Regions from separate parts of the Homo sapiens genome. Here regions 1 and 3 are each linked to region 2. Evidence: fine-mapped expression QTL. A gene starts in region 2. Each other region holds a variant in brackets. All regions are shown on one strand. Distances are between the middles of the regions. Region 1 holds the start of CALHM3 (calcium homeostasis modulator 3). Region 2 holds the start of CALHM2 (calcium homeostasis modulator family member 2). Region 3 overlaps PCGF6 (polycomb group ring finger 6).

Region 1 (4,188 bases), 29 kb after region 2:
CTCATGGGTCACTGAGTGGTGTGGGACCGCACCTGATGATGCCTGGGTCCTTCCTCCGGTGCCCTGCGGGCCGGCGCCACTCCTCGACCATCACCACAGACTGCCGGTTGGCGAGGAGGCCGCAGAGAAACAGGGCGAGCGGGGGCGTCAGCAGCAGGCCCAGGCCGTAGAGTGCATTGTAGTGCACCAGGCAGGGACAGTTGAAGTCAAAGGAGGAGTACAGCTTGACGGTGACCGCAGCCAGCAGCAGGCAGATGCCATTCATCACCGACTCCGAGCTTGACTGGAAGTGCTGGAAGAGCATGCGGAATTTATCCATGGCTCCAGCCTGGGTGGGTGGGCGGCCGTCGGTTCGGCTCAGTGAGGCTCTGGCCACCTTCCTGGTGTCTGCTGTGCTGGGGACGAGCCTGGGATCTGCAAGAGGTTCTCTCTCTGCTTCCAAGGGCCTGAGGGGCCAAGGAGGAAGCAGTGCCCAGGCCCCAGCCCAGGCTCCCGGGATCCAGTAGGCACTTAAGGCAGGGACAGGCTCTCACCACAAAGGCTCCCCTGCCCAGCCCAATGGTCCCCTGGTGCCACTCCCCTCCTGTCTGGGGGAGTGAGTCACCCTCTGTGACCGGGCAGCCCAAAGCACCTCTAGGCAAATGGGCCCCGCCCTGTCACTCCATTCCTCCCGGCCCATTTCTCTTTGCTTTACGGTCTGGATGCTCAGGCTTGACAGCCGTTGGAGCTTCCTTCGGGGGACAGGCAAATTCTGGGTGTGGTGAGGAAAAGATGCTGATGGAGCCAAGGTAGTATATTTTCTGGTCTTGATCAAAAGCATGACTCTGAACTTGTCTCACAGGCATAGTAAAACAACAGCAACAACAACAACAAAATATGACGACTCAGCTCAGCCCAGGGAGATTTCATGTTGGCTTTCAGGCTAGGAGGAGCCAGAAGGGGCACCTATTCCTGACCGAAGGCTTCCTGGAAGAGGAGACCCTTGAGAGGAGTCTTCAACGATGTTTCAGCATTTGCCATGAAAGGGGTAGCGGAAGGGGATGGCCTCCCTGGGCGACGTGCTAAACATTGTGCATTAACCACTGGGTGCCCATGGGAGAGGCTGCTCAAGTGCCACGCCCACACCTGCATGGCTTTCCCCCTGCCCTTCTTCCGTGTGAGGGGCATGCGTTTGAAATCACTGCTTCTTCTCCTAACTCTCCCACATCACTAGGTCTCTCCTTGTGTCTCAGTTCCAGTCTCTCCGAAGGATGACAGCCCAGATGTTTGAGGGACCCCTGAAACCTGCAAAACGAATTTTGTAAAGGTCACTTGGCCCATATTGTAAGTCAGATCATCCCAAATAAGTCTTGCAAATTTCGTAACCATCTGTGTGGTCTGTACTTCTGATGAAGACAGACAGAAACCTGGGTCTTACTTATTATTATTATTATTATGAGATAGAGTCTTGTTCTGTCACCCAGGCTGGAGTGCAGTGGCACGATCTTGGTTCACTGCAGCCTCTGCCTCCCGGGTTCAAGTGATTCTCCTGCCTCAGCTTCCAAGTAGCTGGGATTACAGGCACCCACCACCACGCCCAGCTAATTTTTGTATTTTTAGTAGAGACAGGGGTTTTGCCATGTTGGTCAGGCCGGTCTCGAACTCCTGACCTCAGGTGATTTGGCCCCCTTGGCCTTCCAAAGTGCTGGGATTACAGGCATGAGCCACTGAGCCTGGCCACTTAGTATTTTTATTTTCCATATTTGTACGTTACTCTAGGTCCTATGAGACAGATTTCCCTGTGTGAGGGAAATGAGGCACTGGAGAAGATGGGGAGAGCCACCAGTGGCCCTGTGAGTCTGACTCTGAGCGGAGGAGAGGGCGGGGCAGGGGTGAGAAACCCTTCAAGCCAGGAGGACCACCACAACTTCAGGTGGGTACAGTCCCAGAGGGGCTGTTGGAGGTCACATACCCTGGCGGGGACAGAGCCAGGGAGGAAGCTGGGATCCTCCATCTGTGCCTTTCAGCCTTAGTCACCCACTGGGCTGCTGACCAGAAAAGGGGACTGTCCTGGCCCAAGGCCAGGCTTCGTGACCCTGAACCAGCAGGGCTGGTGTGGAGCAGGCGGGGAGCTAACTGGGCTGGGAGGGTCATGAGCACCCCTCAATCCCATTCTAGTCTCAGGGAGGGATAGAGTGTCCTAAGGGTCCCCAGCCACTCTAACCTTGAGAGTTCA[G/A]AAAACAATAGACAATGCTTCTGGAAGAACACTTTGAAGAAAACTGGGTCAAAGACTCCAGGCCAACCTTTTCACAGCTCCAGCCTCTGAGAGGTAAGACAGAGCTACCAGGTCAGCCTGGGTCCCTGGAGCCCTGCAGGGCAACAGGTGCTGAGTGACTGCAGCGGGGCTGACCCTTGCCGGGTATTTACAGGAAATACTTCAGTAAAGAAACAGGCCAGAAAGAAGCCCACCACAAAAGGGATATTATCTGTCAAAGAGAGGGGATGGCTTACATTTTTTTTTAAATCTCTATTTTCTGAATTGTCGACTTTTATAATAGTAGACATAATAAATCATTACTATAATCATAATAATGATTTTTAACTATTTCCAGCAAAAATCATAAAACATTTTAATTAGAAAAACATAAAAAGATAAAAGGACAAGGCAAAAAGGAGAATTCCATTTTGTTGCCTGGAGCTTGGCCCTGCTGAACTAGTAGAGAGAGAACTAGAGGCAGCAATAAATGGAGAAAGGCTTCTTTTACTCACACATATGGAAAGATATTAAATTGCAGATCTGGCCGGGCGTGGTGGCTCACGCCTGTAATCCCAGCACTTTGGGAGGCCGAGGCAGGCAGATTGCCTGAGCTCAGGAGTTTGAGACCAGCCTGGCCAACATGGCAAAACCCCATCTCTATTAAAAATACAAAAAATTAGTCGGGCATAGTGGTGCATGCCTGTAATCCCAGCTACTTGGGAGGCTGAGGCTTGAGAATTGCCTCTCTTGAGGCTGAGGCATGAGAATTGCTTGAACCCAGGAGGCGGAGGCTGCAGTGAGCCCAGATCATGCCACTGCTCTCCAGCCTGGGCAACAAAGAGAGACTAAAAATAAATTACATTTTTCTTTTTAATAATGATTTAATCTTTTTTTTTTTTTTAAAACCAGTTGTAAATATGTGTTAATTTGCAATTGGAAGATCTTTATAGAATAAATCTTTGGTACTTTCTTCATGTTATTTTGTTTTATTTTCAAATTGGAGTCTTGCAGATATATTCTTGGGGGTCTTCCAGTTTTTTTTGATCTTTGCAAAGGAGTCTGGATATTATTTGAGAAACACTGGCTTCACCGTTCTTGGAGTTCCTGTTATTGAGAGGGCTGTTTAGGACTAGATGCCCCCTACTGGAGAAACTCGTTGTATGTGATGTGTGAGAGATGTGTCTATGTACCTGTGTATGCATGTGTGTACACATGTATGTGTATGTGCGTAGTGCATGTGTACATATTTGGTGTGTGTATGCATGTGTGTTTTCATACATATGGGTGTGGCCGTCTTCCTACTTTGTATATGGTGAGTATGCCCTCCCCTGACAGTTCTTTCTTTTCTTTTTCCTTCACAGGGAAGGCATTGAACGTGCGTCCCACTTCTCAGGACTGGGAGACTGTTGTTCTGTGTGTCTAGCAGAGGGTGGTGCCCTTTCTGTCTCTCGGTGGCGTGATTCTCTGCTTCCCTGAGGACACAGGCCTTTGAGCGGTCCTGGCAGACCCGGGGAAAGCAACGTGGCACTTCTGTGGGCCCCACTCTGGTGACTCCACAGAGCCGTGTAGCCCTAAGGGCAGAGACAGGCTGGAAATGAAATGGGGCCATCTAACAGATGGCGCTGGAACAACTGGCTAGCCATTCGGGAGCAATCTCTACTTCATGCTTCATACCAAAATAATTTTCACATGGTTCAAAGATTCAACATAAAAATTAAAATCATAAAAATTCTACAGGAAAACGTAAGGGAATTTATTCATAATCAGAGGCTAAGGAAGGCCTTTGTGAACAGACCCCAGAATTTAGTAGCTGTAGAGGAGTAGATGGACAAGTAAGAGTCATAAAAACTAGACGCTTCTATGGGCAAACATACCAATAAACAAAATAAAAATAACAAACTGAAGGAAGGGTATTTGCCACACAAAGGCCTCTTTTTCTTAATTTGCAGAAG
Region 2 (4,177 bases):
AGGAGGAGACGGGATTGATGGTTGCTGGTGGTACTAGGAAGGGGCACAGGCTGGGAGGCGCTGGACGGCAGGGTGTGGTTGTGCTATTTTATCCCCAGCTGTGGTTGGCCTGGTGTTTCCTGTGGAGCAGATGACCGATAAGTGTTTCCCTCTGAAAACCAGGAGTTGAGGAAGATGCTAGTGTGGACAGGCTGGGGAGAAAGGAAGGACCATAGGGCCCCAGGGAAGTGACAGTTGCCACTGTTCACTGAGTTCCTCCAGGGTGCATGGCACCCCTCATTTCCCATCCTCACAGTCCCACGTTGAGCTGTGTGCCCGCCGTGCACTAGGGAAAGTGAAGGCTTCCTGAGGACGAGTGGCTCGCCAGGGTCACAGATGAGAGGCAGACTGAGATTCAAGCTTGGGTGACCTGCCTCAAATGCTTAGGTTCTTTTTGCCACCACGAGCTTCTCCTGGGGTAGGGCTTGGGGGTGGCCCATGGTGCTAATGCATGTGGGGTGCTGACCGGCTTTCCCTCTGGGAGTCCAGGTGGCGCATATTAGCAGAGGGGCCAGGGACTCCTTGGATCCAGGGCGTGTCCTTAGGGTCTCAGCCTTGAGGGTGTAAAAGCTAAAGTGAGTGTCCGGGTGGATAAGGGACTTGGATAGGATCCTGCCGTGTGGGCTGGGGTGGGTACAGCAAGATGCCAGAATCCCTGGAGTTCGCAAGGACATTATCTTTTTGGAGACCTCAGGGTCTGATCACACTTCATGACTGTTCTCTGGGCCTCAGATTCCTCATCAGTGAAAAGAGGATAAATCATCCTGAGCCTTGCTCTTTCCTAGGGATGTTGGAGGGAAAGAAAAGAATAAAAGATGCCTGATTGTGCTCTGCGTGAAACTCTCCATCTCTTCCACCCTGTCTTGTCTTTGGGGTGGGGACGATTCTCCTGCCTGCAAAGATCAGGGAACTGAGACCTGAAGAGGATAAAGTGCCTTGCTGAGGCCCAAGAAATACAGAGGTGCCACAGCAGGACCTCTAACCACAACCTAAGGAGACTTGGGAAGTGGATAAGGGTGATTCTGCACTAAGTGAACCCTCTTTTTTTCTGTCTCCTACTGACCTTGCCGTGTCCATCCACGGGTGTCCCGAAGAACCTCCTCTTCCGCAGCCGTGACCCCTCTCCTATCCAGCAGCCTCCCAGCAGCTCCGCTCCACCCCGCCTGCCAGCAACAGGAAGCCCTGGTGAGACCAAAGGCTCAGCGGTGCCACCAGCTCATCCGGAGATTATTCTGCCTTGGTCTGGGCTGTAGCGACGCTGGCAACCTGCCGGGAAGTGGCCATGGCCTCGGGCAACAGCGAAGTTTAGCCCAACTCCCTTCCCAGCCTCCACCCACACAAGCCTGAGAGACAGGCCAGGGTGTGGCCCCATGTCCTCCCCCTCTGGAGGGTGAAAAACAAAACTCCCCAGGCCAGAGGAAGCCAGGGAGTGGAGGGATGGGGTGAGCGCCAAACACAGACCTAGCCCTGTTCCCTTCCATGCTTCATGGAGGGATCACCCCTTCTAGATCACCCCTTCTGTCCCTGCCAAGGAAGGCTGCCAGATGGGCTCAGGCAGAGCCATGTGGCCATGCAGACTCCAAGAAAAGGAGAAGCTGGAGGAGGAGGACCAGGAGGAACAACAGGAGGAGGAGGAGGAGGAGGAGGAGGAGGAGGAGTCTGATTCTTCCCCCACTTCACAGCCTGGAGCTTCCAGCCTAACTTCCTGGGAAAGGCAGTTTGCATCACTGCTGGGGAAGAATGGGTTAAAGTCAGCCCCCTTTGCCCCATCCTTTTCCCTTCTTGGCTTCTAGGCTCCTAATTAGCTCCCTGTGGAGGCCCTGGGTTCATAAACTGGCTCAAAGTGGGGTACAAGATACCTGCACAGGGTGGGTGGTGAGCAGAGGATGGGCCAGGCCATCTTCTGAGACCACTGCCCCCAGGCCAAGGATGGGTCACATCCAGACCCCCAGTGGGACCTCCTCCAACATCAGTGACGACAGGAGACTGGCGGCTCGGGGAGGGGCAGGACTGCTCCCTGTTCAACCGGGTGGAGGGAACCTCAGCTAGGGGCCTCTCTCCCTCTGGGCAGCGTGGGACAGGCCCCACCATGCTCCGCTGACACCTGGCACACCCCAGGGAGGGCCCCTTCCTTACCTGGGGCCAGCTGTGGGCACTTGTGGCCATGGCCTCCTCGGGGCCGGACTCTCCAAGTGGCCTCCAGGAGGGCGGTGCAGGGCAGCGGCGGCCTCCGCCGTTCCCTCCCGCTTTTCTTCTGCACGGGGGCCTGGGGCTGGTGGCGGCTTCAGACTAATCTAACTCCAGAAAAGAGAGAAGAAAACAGTGGGATGGAGTCTGCGCGCCAGTGAGTGGAAAAACAGCCTCCCGGCGCCACCAGGCAGAGGAGGGCGGGCCCCGAGGGCGGCGCGAGAGGAGAGGAGCCGAGAGGAAGTTGAGATGCCTGTTCTGCAGCTGCTGCGCGTCCCACCGACCCGCTGCTCGCCGTCCCTGGGCCGTGCTGGCCCTCCGCCCTCGGCCCAGACCCGGACCGGGCCATGCTCCACACCAATGGGACCAGTCGGGAGGGCCACGTGGGGATGTGGAGGCATTGGGGAGATCTGACCCAGACCTGCCCCCCATGACAGTTTCAAGAGCACCCCACGTACTTGACCCCCGCTGGGCAGAAGCTACCAAAGGAGACCCCGCGAGGGTCAAGGGAGGGTGTCGTCAGGCCCGCGCTGAGCCCTGCAGGATGCTCAGGGCCAGGGCCCCACCCTCTACTGGCCCTTCTCCCTCAGAGTTGTCCATTGACTGGACAAACCATCCCCAATGCTGACTCTTTGACCTATAGTCAGCTAACTCCCCGGGACCTGCTTCGGATCCCTGGAGGGCTGAGGATTGAATTCAGGAGCCTAGGGATTCTCCGGGTCCTGCAGGCAGAGCTCCAACTGGTGGGTGAAAGTTACAAGGAGGCAGGTTTCTGAAGGAAGCCCTGTGTAATAATCAGAGCTGCCCAGCCTGTATCTAAAAGTGGTCAAGATGCGGGCTGAAGCGTCACGGGTCAGGAATGCTGCACAGGAGAGTCTACGGACAGGCTAGATGACCCTTAGCATGGAGGGAGAGGACCCCCGACATCTGTCAGCTCTGCAGTGCTCGTGGTTCCGTCATGGTGGAGCTGCCGAGTGACCCGCTGGCCTCCCTGAGCTGGGCTTGACCATATGTACGAAGGAAAGAAAAGGTACCAAGTTCTGCTTGTTTATTTGTTTGTTTCAGATCCCAGCATGTGCTAAACACAGTCCCAGATCCTTCCCTAAAAGTTATCTTCCTCTATCCTTACCACAATCCTGAAAATCAGGTCTTTTTTAAAAAATAATTTTTTCATTTTAAAAAAATTATAAATCTTCTCTTTATTCTTCTTCTTCTTCTTATTATTATTATTACTTTACAGAGACAGAGTCTTGCTATGTTGCCCAGGCTGGTCTCCAACTCCCAGGCTCAAGTGATCCTCCCTCCTTGGCCTCCCAAGTGCTGGGATTACAGGCATGAGCCACTCCGCCTGGCCAAGCAGGTCTTCTAATATCCATTTTATAGACAGACACACTGAGGCTTAGAGTGGCTGGGTGACTGGCCACAAGTCCTGCAGTGCTGGTATTTGAACTCAGGTGTGCCTGACCCAAAGCTTTGCTCTTCATCACATTTGTACCTCCTGATACCTCCGGGCCTTCTCTTCCCACTGGAAGTGCTGCCACCCACCAACATACACCTTGTTTTTTGCTCATCCTAATCCTCCCTGACTTCAGGGCCCATACCAACTCCTACCTCCTGGAAGAGCCCTCCCAGCCCACCTTGGCCCACAAAGATCTGAGCAACTCCTCCCAAATAATTAAGAGGAGGGAAACTGGACCCCAGAAGTGGGAATAGAGGGAAGGATGGATAAAAAAGGATGGAATCATGCCAAGATCAAAATGAATCCTTAGATGCTTGGGACTTATGTCTCAGAGCTGAGGGCGGTGCTGAGAAACCTATCTGTACCTCTGTTTCCTCCTCAACAAGATGGAAGCTCGAGTGTTTGTGTTGCTGTCTCATCCCTGCCCAGGGGAGGAGGAAGGAAGTCCTTAGGTTCAGAAATCAACAAATACATTAGCCACCCTGTGCTGGG
Region 3 (4,000 bases), 120 kb before region 2:
CAATAGTTTGAGGTGTAGGAGGTGATAAGTAGATGACAGAGTTTGAAAGTAAAAACTAATGCTTACCCAGCTCCGATCTGAGACAACTAACGATGCTACGACCTCATGCAAATAAAAAGCTGAAGTAATCAGAACTAAACAGTCCCTTACAGGAAAAGCACAAAGTGTTTTTTTAGGACTTACAGACTGGGAGCCTAGAATGGCTACCTAGGGAACCGAGGCACACATTTGTTCCATGTTACAGCACTCAGCTTTCCTATCTGTACAGTAGTTTGTTCTTGAGAACTTTCCCAACTAAAACTCAGAGTCTATATTAGATAGGTATTTTATTTTTCTAGGTGTCTTGGGCTTGCTTGTTATACTTGAGCAACTGATAAATGGTCTGCCCGTTATTACCACAGTACAGCATACAGAATAGGTGTTGAGTGTAGGCACTCCAGGCAGACACCTGGGCTCAAACCCTGGTTCTGCCATTTTCTAATAGTGAGTCTTTGGGCAAGTTCCTGAACTTGTCTGTGTCTCTATTTGTAAAATAGATAAAAATAGCACCTGCTTCATACAATTATCATGAAAATAAGTTAATGTATGTAAATAATAAAAATACCTGTCACATAGTAAGCACTGAAGAGTTGTTAGTGTTGTGAGCCATTTGTCTCTAAGATTATTTGCATCATTTTTGCTCTTTATGTACAGGATTTTAACTTTTTTTGTTTGTTTTTTGTTTTTGAGATGGAGTCTTGCTCTGTCACCCAGGCTGGAGTGCAGTGGAGCGATCGTGGCTCACTGCAACCTCTGCCTTCCGGATTCAAGCGATTCTCTTGCCTCAGCCTCCCAAGTAGCTGGGACTACAGGCGTGTACCACCACGCTATTTTTTGTATTTTTAGTAGAGACAGGGTTTCACTGTGTTAGCCAGGATGGTCTCGATCTCCTGACCTCATGATCTACCGGCCTCAGCGTCCCGAAGTGCTGGGATTACAGGCGTGAGCCACTGCGCCCGGCGGATTTTAACTTTTGAGATGGAGTCTCGCTCTGTCACCCAGGCTGGAGTGCAGTGGCACAATCTCGGCTCACTGCAACCTCTGCCTCTTGGATTCAAGTGATTCTCCTATCTCAGCCTCCCAAGTAGCTGGGACTACAGGTACCCGCCACCAACGTCTGGCTAATTTTGTATTTTTAGTAGAGATGGGGTTTCATCATATTGGTCAGGCTGGTCTCAAACTCCTGACCTCAGGTGATCCACCCGCCTTGGCCTCCCAAAGTGCTGGGATTACAGGCGTGAGCCACCGCACCCGGCCCCAATTTCTTAAACCTAGTAGAAAATGATTTTATTGTTTTATAGGGCTGTCATTACTAAAAGAGAAAACTGAAACAAAGATTTCATGAAAAAAATATAACCAGTAACGGGCTTAAACAAAAATTCTAACATAAGCATATACATATATATGTTTTTGAGATGGAGTTTTGCTCTTGTTGCCCAGGCTGGAGTGGAATGGCGCGGTCTTGGCTCACTGCTACCTCTGCCTCCCGAGTTCAAGCAATTCTCCTGCCTCAGCCACCCAAGTAGCTGGGACTACAGGCGTGAGCCACCACACTAATTTTTGTTTTTTTAGTAGAGACAGGGTTTCACCATGTTGGCCAGGCTGGTTTCAAACTCCTGACCTCAGGTGATCTGCCCACCTCAGCCTCCCAAAGTGCTGGGATTATAGGTGTGAGCCACCGTGCCCGGCCAGTTTTTTTGTTGTTTGTTTGTTTTTGAGACAGTCTCGCTCTGTCGCCTGGGCTGCAGTGCAGTGGCACGATCTTGGCTCACTGCAAACTCTGCCTCCTGAGTTCACGCCATTCTCCTGCCTCAGCCTCCCGAGTAGCTGGGACTACAGGCGCCTGCCACCATGCCCTGCTAATTTTTTGTATTTTTAGTAGAGACGGGTGTTAGCCAGGATGGTATCGATCTCCTGACTCGTGATCCACCCGCCTCAGCCTCCCAAAGTGCTGGGATTACAGGTGTGAGCCACTGTGCCCGGCCTGTTTTTTGTTTGTTTGTTT[T/G]TTTTTTGAGATGAAGTTTTGCTTTAGCCCAGGCTGGAATGCAGTGGCGCAATCTCGGCTCACTGCAGCCTCTGCCTCCCGGGTTCAAGCAATTCTCCTGCCACAGCCCTCCTGAGTACCTGGGATTACAGGCATGCATCACCATACCGGGCTAATTTTTGTACTTTCAGTGGAGACAGGGTTTCCCCATGTTGCCGAGGCTGGTCTCAACTCCTAACTTCAAGTGATCCTCCCGTCCTGGTCTCCTAAAGTGCTGGGATTACAGGCGTTAGCCACCGTGCCTGGACAAGCATATATTGTTTCAACCAGATACATTTTTATATCCCCAAAATGTTTACACCAAGCAAATTACAAACAATGTTTCTATTCAAAGTTTCTATCGAATCTTGGCTTAGGTATTAAAAAAAAATCAACAGCTTTATTGAGATGTAATTCACATACCATTAAATTCACCCTTTAAAAGTGTACGATTAAATGGATTTTAGTATATCTACAAAATTTTGCAACCATCACTGCTATGTAATTTCAGAATATTTTCATTACCCTAAAAAGACGCCTGGCTGGGCAAGGTGGCTCACGCCTGTAATCCCAGCACTTTGGGAGGCCAAGGCGGGTGGATCACCTGAGGTCAGAAGTTCAAGACCAGCCTGGCTAACACGGTGAAACCCCGTTTCTACTAAAAATACAAAAAATTAGCTGGGCGTGGTGGGGCGCACCTGTAATACCAGCTACTTGGGAGGCTGAGGCAGGAGAACTGCTTGAACCTGGGAGGCAGAGGTTGCAGTGAGCCCAGATTGCGCCACTGCACTCCAGCCTGGGTGACAGAGCGAGACTCCATCTCCAACAAGAAAAAAAGAAACCTGTACCTCTTGGTAGTCACTCCCCATTCAGCCTCTTCCCCAAGCCTCTGACAACCACTAATCTGCTTTCTGCTCCTGTGGATTTTCTTGTTCTGCACATTTCAGATAAATGAAATCATATAATATATGGATGGCCTTTTGTGACTGGCTTCTTTTCCTTAGCATCATGTTTTCAATGTTTACCCATGTCAGACCATGTATCAGTACTTCATTCCTTTTTACTGTCAAATAATACTCTATTATATGAAAATACATTTTGTTTATCCATTCATCAGCTAATAGGTTATATACACTGTTTCCAGTTTGGGGTTATTATGTTTTTTGAGACAGAGGTTCGCTCTTTTGCCCAGGCTGGAGTGAAGTGGCATGATCTCAGCTCACTTCGCCAAGTTCTCTGCCCTCCGGGTTCAAGTGATTCTCTTGCCTCAGCTTCCCAAGTAGCTGGGATTATAGGTGCCCACCACCACGCCTGGCTAATTTTTGTATTTTTAATAGAGATAGAGTTTTGGCATGTTGGCCAGGCTAGTCTCGAACTCCTGAACTCAGGAGATCCACCTGCCTTGGGCTCCCAACGTGCTAGGATTACAGGCATGACCCAATGTCCCCAGCCCAATTTGAGATTATTAAAAATACATATATATTTCAAATCAAATCCAAATAATGTGCACACAATGTAATTAATTTATATGTCCCTTAAGTTACTTTTCTCAATAGGTTTCATCTGTAGGTTTATTCTTCATCTCTTTCCTTTTTAATTTATTTGCTGAAGAAACAGAATTGGTTGCTATGTAGTTTTCCACTATCTTGATCTGGCTTATTATATTCCTTCAGTGTCATTTAATACATCTCTCTCTCTCTTTTTTGAGACAGAGTCTCGCTGTGTCGCCCAGGCTGGAGTGCAGTGGTGAGGTCTTGGCTCACTGCAAGCTCCGCCTCCCAGGTTCACACTATTCTCCTGCCTCAGCCTCCCGGGTAGCTGGGACAACAGGCACGCGCCACCGCGCCTGGCTAATTTTTTTTGTATTTTTAGTAGAGATGGGGTTTCACTGTTAGCCAGGATGGTCTTGATCTCCTGACCTCGTAATCTGCCCACCTC

Evidence for each region. PIP is the estimated chance that this variant, and not a neighbour inherited with it, causes the effect.
Region 1: its variant is fine-mapped to the expression of CALHM2 in whole blood (INTERVAL, PIP above 0.99).
Region 3: its variant is fine-mapped to the expression of CALHM2 in blood mononuclear cells (TOPMed, PIP above 0.99).

The regions. Positions count from the first base shown.
Region 1 is chr10:103,478,714-103,482,901 of GRCh38, forward strand. CALHM3 (calcium homeostasis modulator 3) reads right to left here and starts at 527. Exons shown (of 3, transcript NM_001129742.2): 1 at 33-527. The coding sequence starts at 319. NEURL1-AS1 (NEURL1 antisense RNA 1) reads right to left here. Exons shown (of 4, transcript NR_120675.1): 4 at 890-1,284. The variant G/A (reference allele first, on the strand shown) is at 2,216.
Region 2 is chr10:103,449,981-103,454,157 of GRCh38, forward strand. It overlaps CALHM2 (calcium homeostasis modulator family member 2), which reads right to left and starts at 2,390. Exons shown (of 4, transcript NM_015916.5): 1 at 2,176-2,390; 2 at 1,103-1,305; 3 at 1-119. CALHM1 (calcium homeostasis modulator 1) reads right to left here. Exons shown (of 2, transcript NM_001001412.4): 2 at 3,260-4,177. It overlaps LOC124902494 (a long non-coding RNA gene), which reads left to right and starts at 2,463. Exons shown (of 2, transcript XR_007062275.1): 1 at 2,463-3,256. RefSeq lists enhancers at 1,063-1,432, 1,381-2,001, 2,002-2,623 and a silencer at 2,462-2,791.
Region 3 is chr10:103,328,044-103,332,043 of GRCh38, forward strand. All of the region lies in intron 7 of PCGF6 (polycomb group ring finger 6), which reads right to left. Among named protein-coding and RNA genes, the nearest start is that of PCGF6, 21 kb to the right of the region's middle. The variant T/G (reference allele first, on the strand shown) is at 2,045.